Linked DNA regions of Homo sapiens: region 1 is linked to region 2. The links come from fine-mapping of genetic effects on gene expression. A gene starts in region 2. The other region holds a variant in brackets. All regions are shown on one strand. Distances are from middle to middle.

Evidence for each region. PIP is the estimated chance that this variant, and not a neighbour inherited with it, causes the effect.
Region 1: its variant is fine-mapped to the expression of TRPV5 in monocytes (TOPMed, PIP above 0.99).

Annotation. Positions count from the first base shown.
Region 1 is chr7:142,902,657-142,912,287 of GRCh38, forward strand. It overlaps TRPV5 (transient receptor potential cation channel subfamily V member 5), which reads right to left. Exons shown (of 15, transcript NM_019841.7): 14 at 6,834-6,940; 15 at 5,445-6,152. The coding sequence ends at 5,858. Among named protein-coding and RNA genes, the nearest start is that of TRPV6, 22 kb to the left of the region's middle. The variant A/G (reference allele first, on the strand shown) is at 4,141.
Region 2 is chr7:142,928,878-142,938,508 of GRCh38, forward strand. TRPV5 (transient receptor potential cation channel subfamily V member 5) reads right to left here and starts at 4,869. Exons shown (of 15, transcript NM_019841.7): 1 at 4,455-4,869; 2 at 1,472-1,569; 3 at 1,181-1,303; 4 at 551-688; 5 at 145-243. The coding sequence starts at 4,582. LOC105375542 (a long non-coding RNA gene) reads right to left here and starts at 8,073. Exons shown (of 2, transcript XR_928065.1): 1 at 7,529-8,073; 2 at 6,850-6,969.

The DNA.
Region 1 (9,631 bases), 26 kb before region 2:
AATCTGCACTTTACATAAGACAAAGTAAATTAGAGGAAGAAGTCAAATATGCCTTCATCCCAGGGTAGGAGGAGGGACGATTTCTATTCTTCTCTTCTCCTGTACCCGTGAAGATAAACTGTTAATTTATAATGTCAGGGTGAAGGAGGCCATCTGGGGAGCTAATGTGGCCTTCTGTCTTGAGGCTATCTGTTTAGGAACAAAAAGACAGGCAGTTTCCAAACTTTTTGGAAGAAAGGCAACTTCCAAAAGTTTGACTCAGTTTCCAAACTTAACTTTTCCCTTTCACATAGTGAGTTTGAGGTCCCAAGATGTTATTTTCCTTTCACATCCTCCCACCCTGTTCTTCCAAATCTTTCAGGGAAAGCATTGTAGAAGAAAGTGAGTGTCTGATCTCAGGTTTGGTCTGATCCCTTGTCACTAGGACAGTTTATTTCTAGAGGGTTAGGTCCCTCATTTTAGAAAGGATCATTCTTAGCAGGTTGTGAAGTTTCATGTTCCACAGAGAAAAATAGGGGAAAGAAGAGAGAAAGAAAACCAGTAGAAAAGGAGGAAAGATCATGACAACAAAAGGGGAAAGTAATCCTGGAAAACTGATTTAGGCTATATTGCTCTGAAGTCCATGAATGAGTAGGCAGGCACAAAAGTGGTTTATATATATAAATAATTTGCTGTTACTTTTCCCAAAGTTTAAGTTTCAAGTTTCACTTGGCAGAACTTTAAGAAAAGCACAGTTTTAATTTTAATTTAATTTTAAATTAAAATTTCTAGTTTTAATTTCTAGATTCCAAATGAGAAAAAAAAGGGAAAAAATGAAAGAAAAAGGAAAAAAAAAATGAACAGTAGTTTGGAGACTTGTAGCCAGGAAAGGACTTAGGATTCAGTCCAAATGCATTTTAACAAAGAATGAAACTGAGAAACAATTGATAAGGTGGGGTCTAAGAAGAGGTGTTTTATATGTTTTTTTAAAAAAAAAAAAAAACATAATTTTTATCTCAGTCCTCCATTTTTATCAAAGACAAATCATAGTAGGACTAATTTATTTGTAGAAAAGCTTTAGTTGTATTATACTTCACCTGATTCTTTGTATAAAGTGCAGCAAGAATAATTATTTTCTATTTAGGCTTTTTTAAAATTGACTTTGCTGGAAACTTTTTTATTTAAGGAATCTTAGTTTAGACTTTTTAAAGGCCCCAAGCCCAGTCAAGAATTTATTTGTGCCTGCAGATATCTGTATGAACTGGGCGAATGCCTCTCTTCTTAATCCCAAGATAACTTGGGGTTCCCGGGCCTGCCAGAAAGTAACGTTCTTTACTTATCACAGGTTGGGAACCCTGTAAAAGAATTGTGTAGGCAAGGTACAAGGCCAGTTTTTTTAAGGATCTTTTATTGGCTCTATAAGTCAATGGCAATTCCTTAAAACAGTTTGTTGTTTTGTTTATAGCTTAAAATATTTCATTCTAGTCAAAGCTTTAGTAAAATAATAGTCTCCAATTGTGTCCTGTTACAAAAGAAAGCAGATTCTTATTGAGCTCATACAAATAACTATATTGTTATAAATTAAGAATACTCAAAAATAGTTTTCAAATTCTGGAGAAATCAGGTAGAGAGAAAGAAATATGCTTTAAATTTTGCTCACAAGAGCATATTTTACTCAATTGTTAAAAGCTGTAAACAACCCAAAAAATGAAAAGAATCACCAATGTTTCAGACAAAAAGATCACACAAAAAATTATTTTAGTCTTCTATTAGCTCAGTTCATGCAATTAACCTCTGTTCTATTTGATATTGGGTCAACAATCCTCATGAATACATCAGATCTCCAGGAGTGTCCTGGAAGATTTTTTTCCTCTATTTTAATGGCACAATCTCCAAAGCTGTCAGAAACCTGCATTTAAAAGTATCCATCTGATACAGTTTGGCTTTGTGTCCCCACCCAAATCTCATCTTGAATTGTAATCCCATAATCCCCACATGTGGTGGGAGGGACCCAGTGAAAGGTAATTGAATCATGGGGGGCAGTTCCCCCCATGTTGTTCTCATGCTAGTGAGTTCTAATGAGAACTCACTCATTCAGTGAGTTGCCCACTGTACTCTAGCATGGGCAACAGATGGTTTTATATGGGGCTACCCACTTTGCTTGGCACTTATTCTCTCTCCTGGCACCCTGTGAAGAGGTGATTCTCCAGTGATTCTAAGTTTCCTGAGGCTTCCCCAGTCATGCAGAACTGTGAATCAATTAAACTTTTCTTTATAATTTACCCAGTCTCAAGTATCTCTTCATAGCAGCATGGGAATGAACTAATACACCATCAGAGTCCTATAACTGATTATAAGCAACTTTTTGAAAAGGAACAAAGTAAAATAATAATTGTGAATGACAAAAGATATCCACAGTCAAAGATATAATTGACAAGGAAATCTGGTTATTTCTGTGGCACACAATAATTTACCATAATTATAATTATTACTGATCACATATACCAAGACATATTAAAATTATAAGAATATTATACAATTTTGGAACACATAACAATAGCACATTTATATAAATATATTTCAAAGAAAGTTACACACCATTTTATACTTGGCAATGCCTCCTGTATGATTTTAACATATCAAATAAGCCAAATATGCCTCTGTTGGACATTTAAAAGTCAGTTTGAGGTTAAAAGACTGCATTTAGAATTTAATCTTGGAAAGTTAGTCCAACATTAAAAGTTTAAAGCACTTGATATCGCAAAATGAGATTACAGGTCATTATAATCATTTAGCTAAAGTGATAACTCACCAATTTTAAAAAAAAGCAGAAATCTTTACTCCTTGATAAAGAAGACCTCAGTTTTCTAAAAAATAGGACCTAATAGAGACAGTGTGAAGCCAACTGAATCTGTCTCTCCTCTCCTTCTTCTTTAATTTTTTTGGCAGTTTATTCAAAGGGCAAATGAAAATCTTTTACTATCTCTTAATATTATACAAAAATCTTATTTAAAAGAGAAAACCAAATTTTATTTTTGTATTACTGTATTGTTAATTCTAAAGCTTTAATAGAATCTTATAAGCAAATCTACCAAATTTTAATTAGTTTGATTGTAAGGTAAGATTTCCATGAGGCTTTTATAAACTTTACAAATTTGTGTTAAAGAACACATCAATATTCCAAGAAAATCCTGCCTCACACAGGTGCTCAGATTCTGACCCTGCATCAATGTGCTATTTATATGAATGTTCAATTTGTATAATATCTAAATAATCCCCTTAAAATTTTAGCCAAACTTGATCACACACAAAATTCCTTTTACAAGATCAATCTTCCACAAACCTTCTACGACTTGCTTAAACCTTCAGTTTTGTCGTTTCTGTTAACTTGAAACAGTCCTTAAAATCCTCTAAACTAGAAAAAAACACTTTCTCTTAAAAAAGAACCACACTCCCATGACTTATTTTAACATTTGTTCTCCAAAAAAAAACACAGCCTACCTGTTTAATACACATTGTATGTACCTAGTAGTTTTAATTACATTCATTAATTTATAATGTTAACTCTTAGTAATTCTTATTTTAGTGAAAAACCTAGGCAGTAAGCAATTTTAATTACATACCAGGTGCACAAGCCAGGACAAAGGACAATACCTGGGGGCAGGCCAAGGGCTCAAATCAAAAGACATATAAGTTTATAGACAAGTTAAGCAAGTATTAAAAAGATTACAGGGCTAGTGCAGTGGCTCATGCTGTAATCCCAGCACTGTGGGAGGTCGAGGCAGGTGGATTGCTTGAGACCAGGAGTTCAAGACTAGCCATGGGCAACATGGCAAAACCCCATCTCTAAAAAAAATACAAAAATTAGCTGGGTGTGGTGGTGCACACCTGTAGTGCCACCTACTTGGGAGGCTGATGGGGGAAGATTACTTGAGCCCAGGAGGTCGAAGCTGCAGTAAGCAGTGATCACACCACTGTACTTCAGCATGGGCAACAGAGCAAGACCCTGTCTCAAGAAAAAAAAAAAAGGACTACAGAAGCAGAATTTTAAAGTGCTTCTACTATGAAGAGAATAAAGAAGAATGATGGTGACTGAGCAGTTTTACATACCCTGCCACCACTGTGTCCCAGTGTGTGCGGGCGTGTGTATACACATTGTGC[A/G]ATCCCTCACTGCTGGGCACTCAGCCCTGGGCTGGTGTATCTGAATTAACTGTCTGTGGTTTCACAAATACCACTTACTTCTTTGTTATCCCAGACCACAGTCCTTTGAAAAGCTGACATGGCTTTTTGCTAAGGGTGATGATGGGGCTGGGATTAGAAGTATAGTGCTGGAGACACAAGAGAGGCTGACCATGAGCACCTATAATGGGTGCCCTGGACACATGATTCCTAATTTCCCTCCTGGAGAGGGATGACCCTTCCTCTATTGTTGCTGTTCCTTTCACAACTCAGTGTGGGGCAAAGGGAGATGGGAATGGAGGATGGCTATGTCAGGAGAACAAGCAGGAGCCTGTTGCCTCCAGGCACAAGGATGATTAGCTGCTAGGGACAGAGCAGGAGGGTCCTGGAAAAGAAATGATTAGGCCATTCAAATATAGGCCTAATTTACCATACATTCTTAAAAACACACCAGGATGCAAACACTTCAGACTGTGAGCCTCAAAAAGCAAAGATAAGGCAATTCAACAACAACAAAAACCTAATTCGAAAATGGACAAATAAACTGAAAAGACATTTCTCCAAAGAAGGTATATAAACATCCAATAAATAGGTGTATAAAAACGTGCTCAGTATCATTAGTCATTAGGGAAAGGCAAATCAAAACTACAATGTGAAGCCACTTCACACCCATTAGAAGGGAATGTAAAATGGTGAAAGCTATTGTGAAAACCAGTATGGCAGTTCCTCATAAAACTAAACATAAGAATTGTCTAGCAATTCCATTTTTAGGTGTATGCCCAAAGTATCTGAAAATAGAAACTAGAACAGATATTTGTATACCATATTGATAGCAGCATTATTCACAACGGCCAAAAGGTAGAAAAAACTCAAATGTCCATTGGTAGATGAATAAATAAACAAACTGTGTCAAATTTTGGACTAAGATTGCAGAATCCCACTTACATAAGATACCTAGAATAGTTAAATTCATAGACAGAAAGCAGAATATTGGTTATCAGGGACCAGGGCAGAGAGATAGCTGGAGAGTTATTGTTCAATGGGGATTAGAGTTTCAGTTCCGAATGATGAAAAAGTTCCATAAATGAATAATGGTGATGGTTACACAACAATGTGAATGTACTTAATGCCACTGAATGGCACATCTGAAAATGGATAATATGGTAAATTTTATGTGACATGTATTGTGCCACAGTAAAAAATTAAAGAAGGCAAGAATAAGGAGACTTTTTTATTGCAGTTGGTGTTTGCTTGCTAAGTGGAGAGAGAGACCTACAGGAGGCTGGGAAAAAAAGAAGGGCCACAACCTCTATGCCATGCCTGGCTCTTCCCACGTAAGCCCTGGGGAGCCAGAAAAGCCTCACAGCTTACTACTTTCTAGGGGCTGCGTGGGGCAGAAGAGAAATGGTCCTGACATTAATCTAGCATCCCTGCCTCATGTCTTTAGTTGCCAACCTCCTTTTTCCTGAGATGGGTGACTTGCAAGAGCCCAGAAAATACGTGAGACAATCGATGACCATTGCCCATTGCCAGAAATTCTGATGTGAAGTGTGAGGCATGACCCTTTAGGGATTGTTCTGTCTCACCCTCCCATGATTAACAGGCACAGAAGTTAGACACTTGCATAGGCAGAGGTCTCCGTCTCTGTCCCCGCCCCCAGGCCAACCGGGAGTAAGGTCAAGAGTGATAGCGATGTTAATCAAAAATGGTAGACCTCCTCTCCATCCCCCTCACTAAGGTTCAGTCCAAGATTCAAGTGCCCCAGGGTGTTTTGACGAAGGATCTCCCAGCCTCGGTGACTGCTGCTCTGGGACGCGGTCCGGGACAGGGAGGAAGTTGGAAGAGCCAAAGAGGCTCTGGCTAGAGTCCCACTCTCAGCCCCAGAGGGCTGTTTCTCAGATGGATGCTCCTGGTCATCCTCCTTGTCTGAGTTCTTGAACACTTCCACATAGCGAAGCACTCGCAGAGGATTCTGATCATTGTGGTTCTCAACCCTGATAAGGGGAAAGGGGAAAGGACTCAATCCAGGTGGGGAGACATGGGCAGGGGAGAAGTAGAGGTGACCATTTAGAAAGCAGGGTCAAGAGGGAAGCAGAAATAAGGCAGCAGAGTTGAAACAGGAAGAGTATCTGGGATCAAGTGAAGGGAGGTGATGGAGGGCAGGCTAACCTGGGATAGAGATAATGGAGGCTGAGCAATCAGGGCTTGCAGGGTGGTAGGACGCACACAGGTGTGTGTGTGTTTGTGTGTTACTAATACGTAGGAATGTGAAAGAGAAAACAGAGCCAACTAATAGATAAGCGTGTCACAAGGATGACGAGATGCAATTCAGGAAGTAAATTTGAGGAGAGAGGAGAGTCACGCCGGGAGATGAGGGCAGAATATGAAGGAGGAAGTTAGATCCAAGCCAAAAGTACACTGGAGATGAAGGTCAGCTCAGAACAAGGTTACAGCAAGTCTGGTAACCCATGCTGACGTCTGAGCATGGACACATGCACACAACCTTTTACACGTGGCTGCCCTGAGGTACACACAGCATTCTTCGTACCCCTCCACTTCAGCTCCAGCCCCCTCCCCTAGACAGGCTAATGTAGGCTCCAGGACGCCTGTCGGTCACCCTTGCTTCCGTGGCCTTATACACATCTGCAGTTTTGCATGTGCACACCATCACTCACCGCAGGAACCAGCGGTCCCCCAGCCCGAATTCGCACCCACAGATCCCGGAGCGAGGCCACAGGCAGCGAGGCAGCTTCCGCTCCAGCATCACTGTGGTGGCCACGACCTGGAAGGAGGCAGGAGATACAGGAAGAACTCTGAAAGAGCCATGAGGTTCAAAGAGGCACTGAGGCCACTGATAAAGGGAACCAAAGGCAATCTGTGAGATAGGACACTAGAGGTCAGTGGTGAGAACAGCCACCTATTCACCCCACAGCCTGTGCCAGGCACCATGCAACCAGCTTCACTCATCAAGAAATGAGAGAGGATTTTTTGTGAGTGTTTTGAATAAAATAGTTGCCCTTACATTACTATTCACTCATGGAGAATGAGTCACTCCAAACTAATCTCAACTTCTTTTTCATATAAAAGCCACAGACCAATTATCTCGATTTAAATAAAATGATTAAAGAGAATCTCTACGATCTTGGGGATGAATTGATACTGTTACTGTTCAGGGAATTTTCAGCAAATTAAATATCCACATCTTAGGAAGGAAAAGGGTTGATTAATGACTGCAAGTTGGCAGGGAAATTTCTGGTAGCAAGTCCACCACACGTTCTGTCCTTTGCTCAGCCCTCATTAATTACTTAGATGAAACATGGGAAACAAGCTTATCAAATATGCCTGTGACACAAAACTGGGAGGGATATGTAATATGTGGGGCAACAGAAGCAATATAAAATTATCTCGCTAGATTGGAATGCTGGTGTAAAATCATTAACAAGAAATTTAAGTAAACCAAATCTAAGGTCCTATATTTACATTTAGGAAGCTTAGATAAGTGAGTCATAGAACAAAGGTGTGGGAGTGCTAGCTGATCACAAGCTTAATAAGGGCCATTTGTATATTTGCTAAAAGACCTGACTCAGCTTTAGGTACCCTTAGCATTATGTCCAAGTAAGGAAAGGCATAGTCCCGCTTTGTACCGCATTGCCCTAATCATACTGGGGACTATTCTAGTTTCAAAGAAACCATGATCTATTAGAGCATGGACAAAAGGGTGCAATCAGAATAGATCAGAACCAGGAAGGCTTCCTAATTGAAGGAGTGCAATCTTCAAAATAGCAAATTCTTCACCTCATGTTTTTCTACTCCCTATCTTCCTCATTACTCCACACTTCTTTCAGTTTCTTAATTGCACCAAGTTCCCTCCTAGCTCAGGACTTCCAGTCATTCTGTGCTCTTACCCTGGATAGCTGTTCTTCTTTGCCTTGAAAGAAATGTTTATTGTTCCTCCTGAGCCATCATGCAGCCCCGTCCTTCCTCGGGTAACAGCACCCATTTTTCATTTAGGGAATTGCTCCCTCATCACTTTTAGTGCATTGGTTTGAGTGGACTGGGCTTCACACAGTTGTGCTTAATTAATCTATTTTCCCCCAAACCTCCCCTCCACCACCATCACCAACACCTCCACTATCTAGTCCTTGGTCTTTCCTTAGATTCAACGATGTGCCTATGACCCGAATGTGTTCCCATGAGATGGAACATGGAAGGAATTGGCAGGGGGAAAGATGTTCTTTTAAAGCCTGCAGTTTTGCCTGGCACCAGGAGCCTCACAGAATACAACGTGAGTGGGGCCCTCGGAGCTGCGTGTTGCATTGCACATCCTCATTCTTTTTGGAGTTTGGAGCTTCTAGAAATGATCTCACAAACACGATGGGAGAGCTTGCCTTAGAAGAGAGGTCAAAAGAGAGCCGAACAGAGGAATGGATGTAATGTATAAGATGTGGATCTGCATTCTGGCCAGATACCTCTAAAGTTAGTTTAATTCTCTAAACTTCCCATTTATGAGGACTAACACATCCTCTTCCCCCTGTTTAAAAATCTGCAAGTCTGTTTGAGTTTGGTTTTCTGTCCCTGTAGCCAAGAGTCCTAATTGCTACTAACCTTGACCTTCATCCTTTTCCCTCCTTCCTTTTAACTACCTAGTTCTTGCTCACCTTTGGGTTCTCATCTTAAATGTTGCTCCCTCAGGAAAGCATGTCTTCACTTCCCAGTCCGATTCCTCTGTTGTATCCTCCTCTTAGCACCTTACATTCTCTATAGCACTTTTGCTGCTGTAATTTTACAGCTTTTTGTGAAGTCATTCACTTCATGCCCGTCTTTCCAACTAAACCGTCAGCTCCATGAGGGCACATATGGTGTCTGTTGTGTTTATGCTCATGTCCCTAGCTCCTAGGCATTTGTCAACACATAGCAGGGTCTAAATGATCATCATTAAATGAATGAAAAGTCTAAGGGAAAAATGATGGCTATATTCAAATATTTGAATGGTGCTTATATGGAAGAATGTGTTCTGTGATATATGAGAGGGAAAGACTGGCGCCAAAGAATGAAATTTTAAGAAGATAGGTTTTAGCTCAATGCGACATAAATGTCTAATAACAAAATCTTTAAAAATATGGGAAAACTCCCTTCCTCCCAACCTCTACCTGAATTTGCAAGATAATAAGGTACTAATCAGCATTAGAGAAGATATTGAATGACATTCTGACCAATAAATGATTATTATGTTAAGTAGGAGGTCAACTTGAGGGCCATTGAGGGTCACTTCTAATTCTAATATTTATCAGTCTATGGTGATATAAAGAAAAGATCATAGAGAAACAGGGATTTACAGAAGCAAATAGAAGATAAGATCCAAATTGAAAACTGGAATATACCAGAACAAGGTCACTTCTAGTTCCCACTGGACTCAAGGATCAATCCTAGGTCTACTTTTCCCCTGTGAGCAACAACCCCACCTCTTGCCACT
Region 2 (9,631 bases):
GCAGGGTATCATGTGGCCACTGGCCTAAAGTCCCTGATGTCCCCATCCCCACTCTGGGGTCTTCCTAAAGGTCCCAGCTCCACTCCTTACCCTGTCCCTCGCTCCCCACAGCATCCCAGCTCCCCTCCCCATCCCAGCTCTTACCCAGGGAGTCCTGGGCCCTGATGTCAGCTCCATGCTCAATGAGCAGCCGCACGATCTCCTCGCTGTTCACACAGGCAGCAAAGGACAAAGGGTGCTCCCCTGTGGACACAGAGAGATCCATGGCAGGAGAACGCAGGATGGCAGGATGGGGTGGGCAGTCTCCCCCAAATAAGGGCCTCCTCCTCATCCCCCATATCTCAGTTCTAGGCTGAGGGACACTCGTCCAGCAGAACCAGAGGAAGGAACCATCAGGGGAATGGGCCTCTGGCTTAATTAAGCCCTAGAAGGGCTGCCCCTCTCAACTGCCCAACAGATGGAGCTGAAGGCAGGACCCTCATGCCCTGGCCTCCCTCTGCCTTGCCCGCCTCTCCAGCCAACCATCCTTCAAGCCCAACCCTGCTCTCACCAAAGTAGATGAGGTTGCGGGGACTATGGCGGAAGGCAGTGCCTGTGGCTCTGGCAGAGACACTGGCCCTGCGGGTGAGCAGGGCACGCACCAGGTTCACATTCTGGTTCACAACAGCGATGTGCAGTGCAGTCTGACCTGGCCCAGAGACAGCCATCATCAGGGTCTCCCTCTGTCCCCAGTTCTCTCAGGGACACAGCATCCCCCACCATCCCTCTCAGGAGGTTCCTGATAGATCTTTGCTAGACTTCTGCCCTGGGCTTGGCAGGGTGGCCTGGGACTAAGAGCAATTCATCCCTCAGGCTGCCCTGCTCATTGACCTACCCTTCAGTTATTGGGAGCCAGCAGGGGATTGCTATGAATATAATCATTCTCATGTTGCTATGAGAGAAAGAAATTGAGATAGGTCCTACAGGGACTATGGGAGGTTTGAAAGGAAATGCTGAAGGAAGCCACAGATTGGTAAAAGCCAAGACCAGGACCTTTGCATTTCTCCCAACTCAACGGAGCCCATCCTCCTGACCCTCCATCACCCCACCCCAACCCATCCTTCAGAGGCCAATTTTAAGAGACAACAGCACACCCTCCATCTCAAAGTTTCCACCTTGAATTACCATGTAGGCTCCTTACCTGCAAAAGCCTCACATGTGGTGGGCTCAAAGACCAGCTCTGGGGCAGCCTCCATCAGCACCAAGGCCGCCTCCAAGTTGTCATAGAGGGCTGCTATGTGCAGCGCCGTCTCCCCCAGGGCTCCTGGATTGGAGTAAGACAGAGATGTTAGACACTTTTCAGATTCCCTTGAGGAAGGGGCCTCAGGCTCCAGAGACACCCTCCAAGGCCCTATTTCACAAACTCGAAGTCTTGGGGAGGAGGAGTAGGTTCTTCTGCCCCCACCTCCATCCCATTAAATCCAGATCCCACCTCTTTGTCGAACGTCACAGGTGCAGTCCAGTAGAAGTTGCCTAAGAACAGACAGGTCATTTTCCTTGGATGCTCGAAGCAGTGGAGACTCTAGAATCCTGGGGAAAGGTGAACGTGAGTTTGGAAGAGACAGTCATAGCAGAATGAGGCCAAGAGCAAAGGGGATCTAAGACATTCTTTAAGACCAACGTGACTCACACAGCGTGCAGTGACAAATTGGAAAGAAGTGCCTACTGGACTCGAATGACCGAGGGTGGACTTGGGCAAGGGTCAGCCCCAGGGCCTTCCTTGCAATTCACATCATGGTGATTCTCCTGTGAGGATGGCCCTTGAAGCTCTGCTGGAGGGGAAGAGTTAATAGGAAGAGAACCTGTAGTCTGGAAAGAGTGGTCTGAGAGTCTCTAAGAAGAGGACCCTAGGCTTGGCTGAATTCATCTAACCTGAGTAACTGTCTCAGATCCTGGATAGTTGGAGAGCGGGACAGAGGGCACTTCCATCTGCGGTCCCCCTGCTCCTGGGCCTGCTGAATCTACTGTCTTTAACCAAGGGGAGTTTGGGAGACCAAAACACAGAGGGAGGAGGAATGGATCGACTGCTAGATCTTTCCTAGGCATTTTGAAATTTGTGAAATTTGTGAGGCACTAAAGTTCTGACTACTCCCTCAGGCTATTTTTTTTTTTTTTTTTTTTTTTGAGACAGAGTCTTGCTCTGTTGCCTAGGCTGGAGTGCAGTGGTACAATCTCAGCTTACCGCAGCCTCTGCCTCCCAGGTTCAAGCAATTCTTGTGCCTCAGTCTCCCGAGTAGCTGGGATTACAGGCACGCACCACCACGCCCAGCTAATTTTTTGTATTTTTAGTAGAGATGGGGTTTTGCCATGTTGGCCAGGCTGATCTCGAACTCCTGAGCTCAGGCAATCCGCCTGCCTTGGCCTCCCAAAGTGCTGGGATTACATTGCGCCCAGCATCCTCAGGTTATTTAGATACAGGTCCCTGCAGGGGGTGGAGAGTTGTGGGGTGAGTTACAGGGTGCCTCTTTCTTCTGCATTATACCCTTAGATGCAAAGGTCTAAACAGCTTGTTTATGTGGGTGTCTCAAGGCAAAACAGGTTGAGATACTCATTCTACAGGACCTCTGTTAATCTTTGCTTCTACCATACCCAGATTTGAACCCAGAAAGAGATAAAGCTGGAGCCTCTCCAACTAGACATATGTGTATTGGCCCCAAAGGCAAGCACATGGTGTAGGGGGAAGAACAGAAAGGACAGGCCGATGAGTGGCTCCTCTGAGGTCCCCACCTCCAAATCCCTCTCTTCCAATAGCCCCAGGAGCCAGGGCGAAAAAGTGTTTTTATTTTATTTATTTATTTTTTTTGAGACGAAGTCTCACTCTATTGCCCAGACTGGAGTGCAGTGGTGCGATCTCGGCTCACTGCAACTTCCGCCTCCTGGGTTCAAGTGATTCTCCTGCCTCAGCCTCCCGAGTAGCTGGGACTACAGGTGCCCACCACCATGCCTGACTAGTTTTTTTATTTTTGGTAGAGACGGGGTTTCAGCATGTTGGCCAGGCTGCTCTCGAACTCCTGACCTCAGGTGATCCACCCATCTCGGCCTCCCAAAGTGCTGGGATTACAGGTGTGAGCCACCACGCCCAGCCAAAGTGTTTTCATTTAAAGAAGAAGCTTTTAATCTAAAGGTGGGGCCTGGTTTTACCTGTTAAGGCAGTGCTCCTAGGAGGGGCCTTTGTGAGGAGTCAGTTCCCTGCCCCGTCTCACCCAGGGAATCAGTCCCAGGGAGCCTGGTGTCCCTGACCAGCCTAGAGTGGTCAGGGCTGAGATTGCAAATTCACCCCCATCCTGAGGCCACTGCACAAACAAAGTCCTTGCCTCCCTGGCCCTCTATCCCCACTGCCCCTCTGCAGAGGGTCCAAGTTGGGGCTGGAAGCTCACTTTCTCAGAGACCCAGGGGTCCCACTCTAAAGCAGGAAGGTGAGATTCCACTGGAGGTATTGGGTGGGGAGATGAGGAAGCAGAGGGCTTGACAGTATGAGGGCTCAGAGGTACTTGGGACCAGGCCCAGTGTAAACTGCAAATGCAGGACCCCTTGTTCAAAATTATTAAGAACTTGAAGATGAGGACAGCAGGGCATTGAACAAAGCACAGGAATCTTCTGGAGTACAGGGGAGCCCTTTGTGACTGCTAATGTCTGCTCAACAACCTCACCCCTCAGGCAGCTGTTGGGTGGGAGGCAAGCCCCAAAACACTTGGAGGAAGAAGCAGCCCACAGGATTCGTCCCTGCCCCAGCTGCTCTTCCTGGGACTGGACCTCAGGGCTAAGCCATGAAATGATTTACCTGCAGGTGTGCTAGCCCTGCCCGAACTAAGAGCTCTCCAGGAGCAGGCACAAGTCTCATTCAATCTTTATGTCATTGGGATCTAACACCCCTCTGCACACAGTAGACTCAATAAAAGGCAGATGGACTGAACTCAGAGCCCTCCAGTGTCACCTGAGCTGCCCTCCTCCACTGGTCAGCACCCAGTGTTACACCAAACAAAGCGCTCCTCCCCTTTCCCACACAGTCCACTTTCATTCAAATGAATGGCGTTTCCTTATCGTGCTTCCACCACCCACAGGAGTGCATCCCTTCTTCAGCAGCCTGCTTCTGCCTTCCCTCCCCATCCCACACAACCTGGCTTCTTCCCTCTGGTCCTTTTTGGTCCTTTCACTCCCCCTTGGCTGTCATTCTGCCTCTGTCCTTAGGTCTACCCTCAAGATTTTCCTGTGTGGCCCAAAGCCACATCCTCCACCGCCACTAAAAGGGGCCAGCTGGGATTCTGTAATTAGGTGGGCTGGAAGGAAAGGGTATGTCTGAGTGACTGGCACTGACAATACACTTCTAGGGTGCTGTATTCGGAAAGCAGGCCCAGGTGGGTCAGAGGGTCTGAGGATCACGGCGGTAGGGCCACGGATCGTTCTAGGAAGCCTACCTCTTCTGCTGCAGCATATGAAGCTTGTCCAGGTGCTGGTCCCAGTCTTGTTCTCTGACCAGAAAGGAGGGCAGAAGTTTCTGGAGTTGGCTCCCGGGCCCTTCTGCCTTAGGTAGAAAACCCCCCATGTCTTCTCCTTGCAGACACTGGCAGATTATAGAAATGTGGCGAAAGAAACAGGTCTAGGATGACAGCAACTGAGCAAGAGATGGGGTCTATTTGGGGCTGGGACTCTGAGTTTATCTCCTGTATGACTTGTGTATGCAGCATGCAGCTTGTAGGTGTGTGTGTGTGCATGCAGTATGTGGGTTGTGGGGTGTGCGTGTATGCACAGTGTGTGGCTGTGGTGTATGTGTGTGCATGCAGTGTGTGGTTGTGAGGTGGTGTGTGTGCATGCAGGTGCGCTGAGGGGACTGACCGCCCTGCCTGGGGAGAAGTGCTTTTCCTGGAGGGGGAGGAGCTCTTTGCAGAGCTGAGCCCCACAGCCACAGAACCACCCTGGGGAAGAAAAGGAGGAGGGGAAGGAAGGTTCCTAACTGTGGGCTGGGATGGCTGAGACCCGAGAAGCTAAGAGGTGGGGCAGAGGAATTTGGAAAAAGAAAAGGGATGGAAGGTGGGTCCACAAACAAGGTGCACAGTTAGTTGCATGAGGGAGAGGAGGAAATAAAGACTTCCAGCTCAAGAGTCAGGCAGAGCCTGGTTCAAATCCTGACTCTTATCCCTTACAGTTAGGTGAGCTTTCTGAGCCTCAGTTCCTAACCTGTGAAATTGGGGTAACGGCTATGCCGTCTCACGGGAGCATCTGTAAAGCATGTGTCACAAGTACTCAATCACTGCCGATCCTCCTTCCACAAGAGGGCTCAAGAGACCCCCGGGCTGCTTCTCAGAGCTTCCCATTTATGTGTCTTGTGGTCATCTCTGTCCTCAACCCTGTACCTCAAAGGAGGGTTTCTGACCCCCACTTCCCAGGCCAATCCCTCTCTGTGAGAAGTCCTCATGACCGTGACCGGCCAGCTTCCTGGAGCGTCGCCGAGCAGGCTCTGGTACCTGGGGACGCAGGTCAGAGGAGCCCCCAGGGGCCTCGAGTTATTATGGAGGTTGAACAGCAGAAACTGAGCAAAGGTAGACGACAAATAAATCGTGATTCCATGTTTGGGACTCTTTCCAGGAATGAAACACCAGGAGGAATAAGTAATGTTGCACTATTTTATATATTTTATATTATATTTTATATATTAAGTAGTTTCCCTTATCCACAGTTTCACTCTCTGATGGTTCAGTTACCTAAGGTCAGCCACAGTTGGAAAATAGGTGAGTACAGTACTATAACATATTTTGAGAGACAGAGAGAAAGAGAACATTCACATAACTTTATATTATTATAATTTTCATTTTATTGTTGTTAAACTCTTTTTTTTTTTTTTTTGAGACAGAGTTTCACTTTCGTTGCCCAGGCTGGAGAGCAATGGTGTGATCTTGGCTCACTGCAACATCCACCTTCCAGGTTCAAGTTATTCTCCTGCCGCAGCCTCCCTAGTAGCTGGGATTACAGGTGCCCACCACCACGCCTGGCTAATTTTTGTATTTTTAGTAGAGACAGGGTTTTACCATGTTGGCCAGGCTAGTCTCGAACTCCTGACCTCAGGTGATCTGCTTGCCTCGGCCTCCTGAAGTGCTGGGATTACAGGCGTGAGTCACTATGCCCGGCCTAAACTCTTCACTGTGCCTAATGTATAAATTAAACTTCATCATATGTATGTATGTATGTATGTATGTATGTATGTATGTATGTATGTATGTACGTGTAGGAAAAAAGATAGTATATACAGGGTTTGGTGCTATCTAAGGTTCCTGGCATCCACTGGGGCGTCTTGGAATGTATCCCCTGAGGATAAAAGGTGACTACTGTATATGATAGCTTGTATTTATGTTCTCATTTTTTTTATTATTATACTTTAAGTTCTAGGGTACATGTGCACAATATGCAGGTTTGTTACATATGTATACATGTGCCATGTTGGTGTGCTGCACCCATTAACTGTCATTTACATTAGGTATATCTCCTAATGTATCCCTCCCCCCTCCCCCAACCCCACGACAGGTCCTGGTGTGTGATGTTCCCCTTCCTGTGTCCAAGTGTTCTCATTGTTCAATTCTGTTCTCATTGTTTTCAAAGAGGTACATCAATATTATTGAATTGCATTCACTCAATAGACCTATCAGGTAAATGAGAACAAGGAAGAATTCCGTCTGTGAGAATTCTTGGGTGTGCTGGCCCCAAGTCCCATGGCTAGTGGCGAGACTGTAACTGGCCATGAACTTGGGATCTCAGCTCCAAACCACTCTCCAGACCTTGTTGCTTCTTGGGAATCTTTTGGCTGTAAAGGTGTGAGAGACCAGCGTGAGGATACGCTGGGACTCTCCCTCTGGGGGTCTTGAGGAGTGGGGACTGCCCCCTTCTTTTGTTGTAAGAAAGAGAGATCTGCTCCCAAGATTGAGGGATGGACAAAATAACCTTTAGAGAAGGACAAGAATTGAAAGGAAAATAAATAAGGAAACTAAGAGGAGCTAGTGTTCATTGATGTTTCAAAAGGGGGAAAATTTGGATCTTTTTCTTATTAAAAGCCAAAAGGAAAAGTTAAGTAAAAAAAAAAAAAGATACAGTGGAATTATGTTCTCACTGGGAGTGGGGAGGGCTCAACTTGTGGGACATTTTTCTGCCTCGCTGGGGGTGACGCCCTTGTGGAGTGACTTCCAGTCTAAGGAGATGGAGGGAGCGATAAGGGTGAGGTGGGGGTTGTAGATGCCTTGATAAGCGAGGCAGGTCAGGAAAGGAGCACCTGCCAAGGAAACTACAACCCATAAAGCTGGTCCTGGGGCGGGGGGGTTGGGACATGGGGGGCCGGCAGGGGAGGAGGCTGGCCCAGTCTGAGCTGCACAGAGCAGGTGTGCAGGGACTTGCCGCCAAGGGCATGTCCAGGGGTCTGGGGAAGAGAAAGGGGAGGCCCAATGCTCAGGCCCCCCCACCCGCCATCCCTGGGCCTTCGCCCTCTCACTTGCCCTTCTCTGCCTACCTCGTCCTCTCCAGTGGGAAGGGCATGGACAAGTAACCTGGGTGAGGACCATGGTGTCCCCCGGCAGTCCCAGCTGGTAGACCAGAGATTTGGAGTCTCTCCTGTTCTCTCCTTGCCTTCTCTCCAGACTGTTTCTTCCTCTTGTGATATTCGACATCACCATTCTATTTTTCCTTTTCTCTCCTTTCTTTTCATGCCTCTCTCAGCTTTCTGCAAGTGAGGACATCTGCAAACTCTCGCCTTCAGAGAGCAGCTTCCCTGCCACTGATGAATGGTCAGTAATGCCTCCAGGCACTCGGGAGAACTGGGCTGGGGGCACCAAACTACACCGTCAAGTCCCAGAACCCTTCACGCCAAAGCAGCCTGACCTCTTATTCTAACATAATAAAGAGGAGGAGGAACCATAATACCTAGATTTCCATTTTTAAAAATTACACTCCCACCCTACGTGGCCACAGCCATCTACGAAAAGGATTCAGGGCCGGATGCGGTGGCTCATGCCTGTAATCCCAGCACTTTGGGAGGCCGAGGCGGGCGCCTCACGAGGTCAGGAGTTCGAGACCAGCCTGGCCAACATAGTGAAACTCCGTCTCTACAAAAAAAAATTAGCTGGGCCTGGTGGCAGGCACATGCAATCCCAGCTACTCAGAAGGCTGAGGCAGGAGAATCACTTGAACCCGGGAGGTGGAGGTTGCAGTGAGCTGAAATTGCGCCTTTGCACTCCAGCCCAGGCAACAGTATGAGAGACTCCATCTCAAAAAAAAAAAAATAGAAAGAAAGAAAAGGATTCAAATACCATACCTTAAAACTAACTGTGGCCAGGCGCAGTGGCTCACACCGGTAATCCCAGCACTTTGGGAGGCCGAGGCGGGCAGATCACCTGAGGTAGGGAGTTCGAGACCTTCCTGACCAACAGAAAGAAACCCTTTCTCTATTAAAAATACAAAATTAGCTGGGTGTGGTGGCACATGCCTGTAATTCCAGCTACTCGGGAGGCTGAGACAGGAGAATCACTTGAACCCAGGAGGTGGAGGTTGTAGGTGAGCTGAGATCGTGCCATTGCCCTCCCGTCTGGGCAACAAGAGTGAGACTCCATCTCAAAAAAAAAAAAGTGATTATCACTGGATGGTGGAATTATTAGCCTTTTTGGGGTTTTGTATTTTTCTATATTTTCTACTTTGTAATAAGAAAAAATATTTAAGGGATTCCCTGTTTTCTGCAAGAATTTATCTCTTTTAACACTGCGGAGGTCAGGCGGGTGGTGGTGGCAAGGAAATGGAAGTAATGGAAACAACTCAGTTATTTCCACTCAAGCCTGCCCGGGAGGCAATTCTCACCCCAGCCGCCCTCCCCATTCATTCCCACAGAGCTGGAGATGGCTTCTCTTTTTGCCAGGAAACCAAGAGGCTGCTCCCCCAAAATAGCCAGGAGGGAGGAGATTAGTGATGGTTTTTTCCATTCAAGCATCATTCTTTGGATCTCACGTCAATGGGTTCAAGGTGGGGTGAGCAGGGTCACCTGCCTACTTGAATCTTTCCTTACTCACCTTCAAGCGACCTCCGTACCACTCCCTAGTCCCTTGTCATCTGGCTTGGACCATCAGGAAGTGTGTAAGAGATGGTGTCTGCTGTATGTGAGACAGCATCCATGTGGGCATGTCTGCTAACACGAGTAAACTCTGTGGGAAAGCATCTCTTTGTGTGTTTCTGTCTGCAGTTCCCTCTTGCAGAAAGGGTGCCTGTCTCCGCAGTGTCCTTGGACCTGCATGTGGTATTTCATTCAGGTCTGGTATGCATGGATGAGCAGGAGCAGTGTGAACTGGTTATGAGAGTTCAGGAGTGACTAAAGTCTTCTCTTACCTGTCTTAGCAGCCATCCTGCATCTAATGGCCTATGTCTCTGTTGCTGGTTTTCGAAAAAAGGCCTTCATTCTGTCTCCCTAACTCACAACCCTCCAACCATCTCTGCCCAAGAAGCAGTTGGGGGTGATTACCCACAGCCGGTTACTGCCAACAGATCTGTGCTCACCAGGCTCATGGGCAGGAGGCGCATCCAAGTACTGAGGCAGGATTCTCCCAGATCTGTTATTTGGGATCCTAGACTC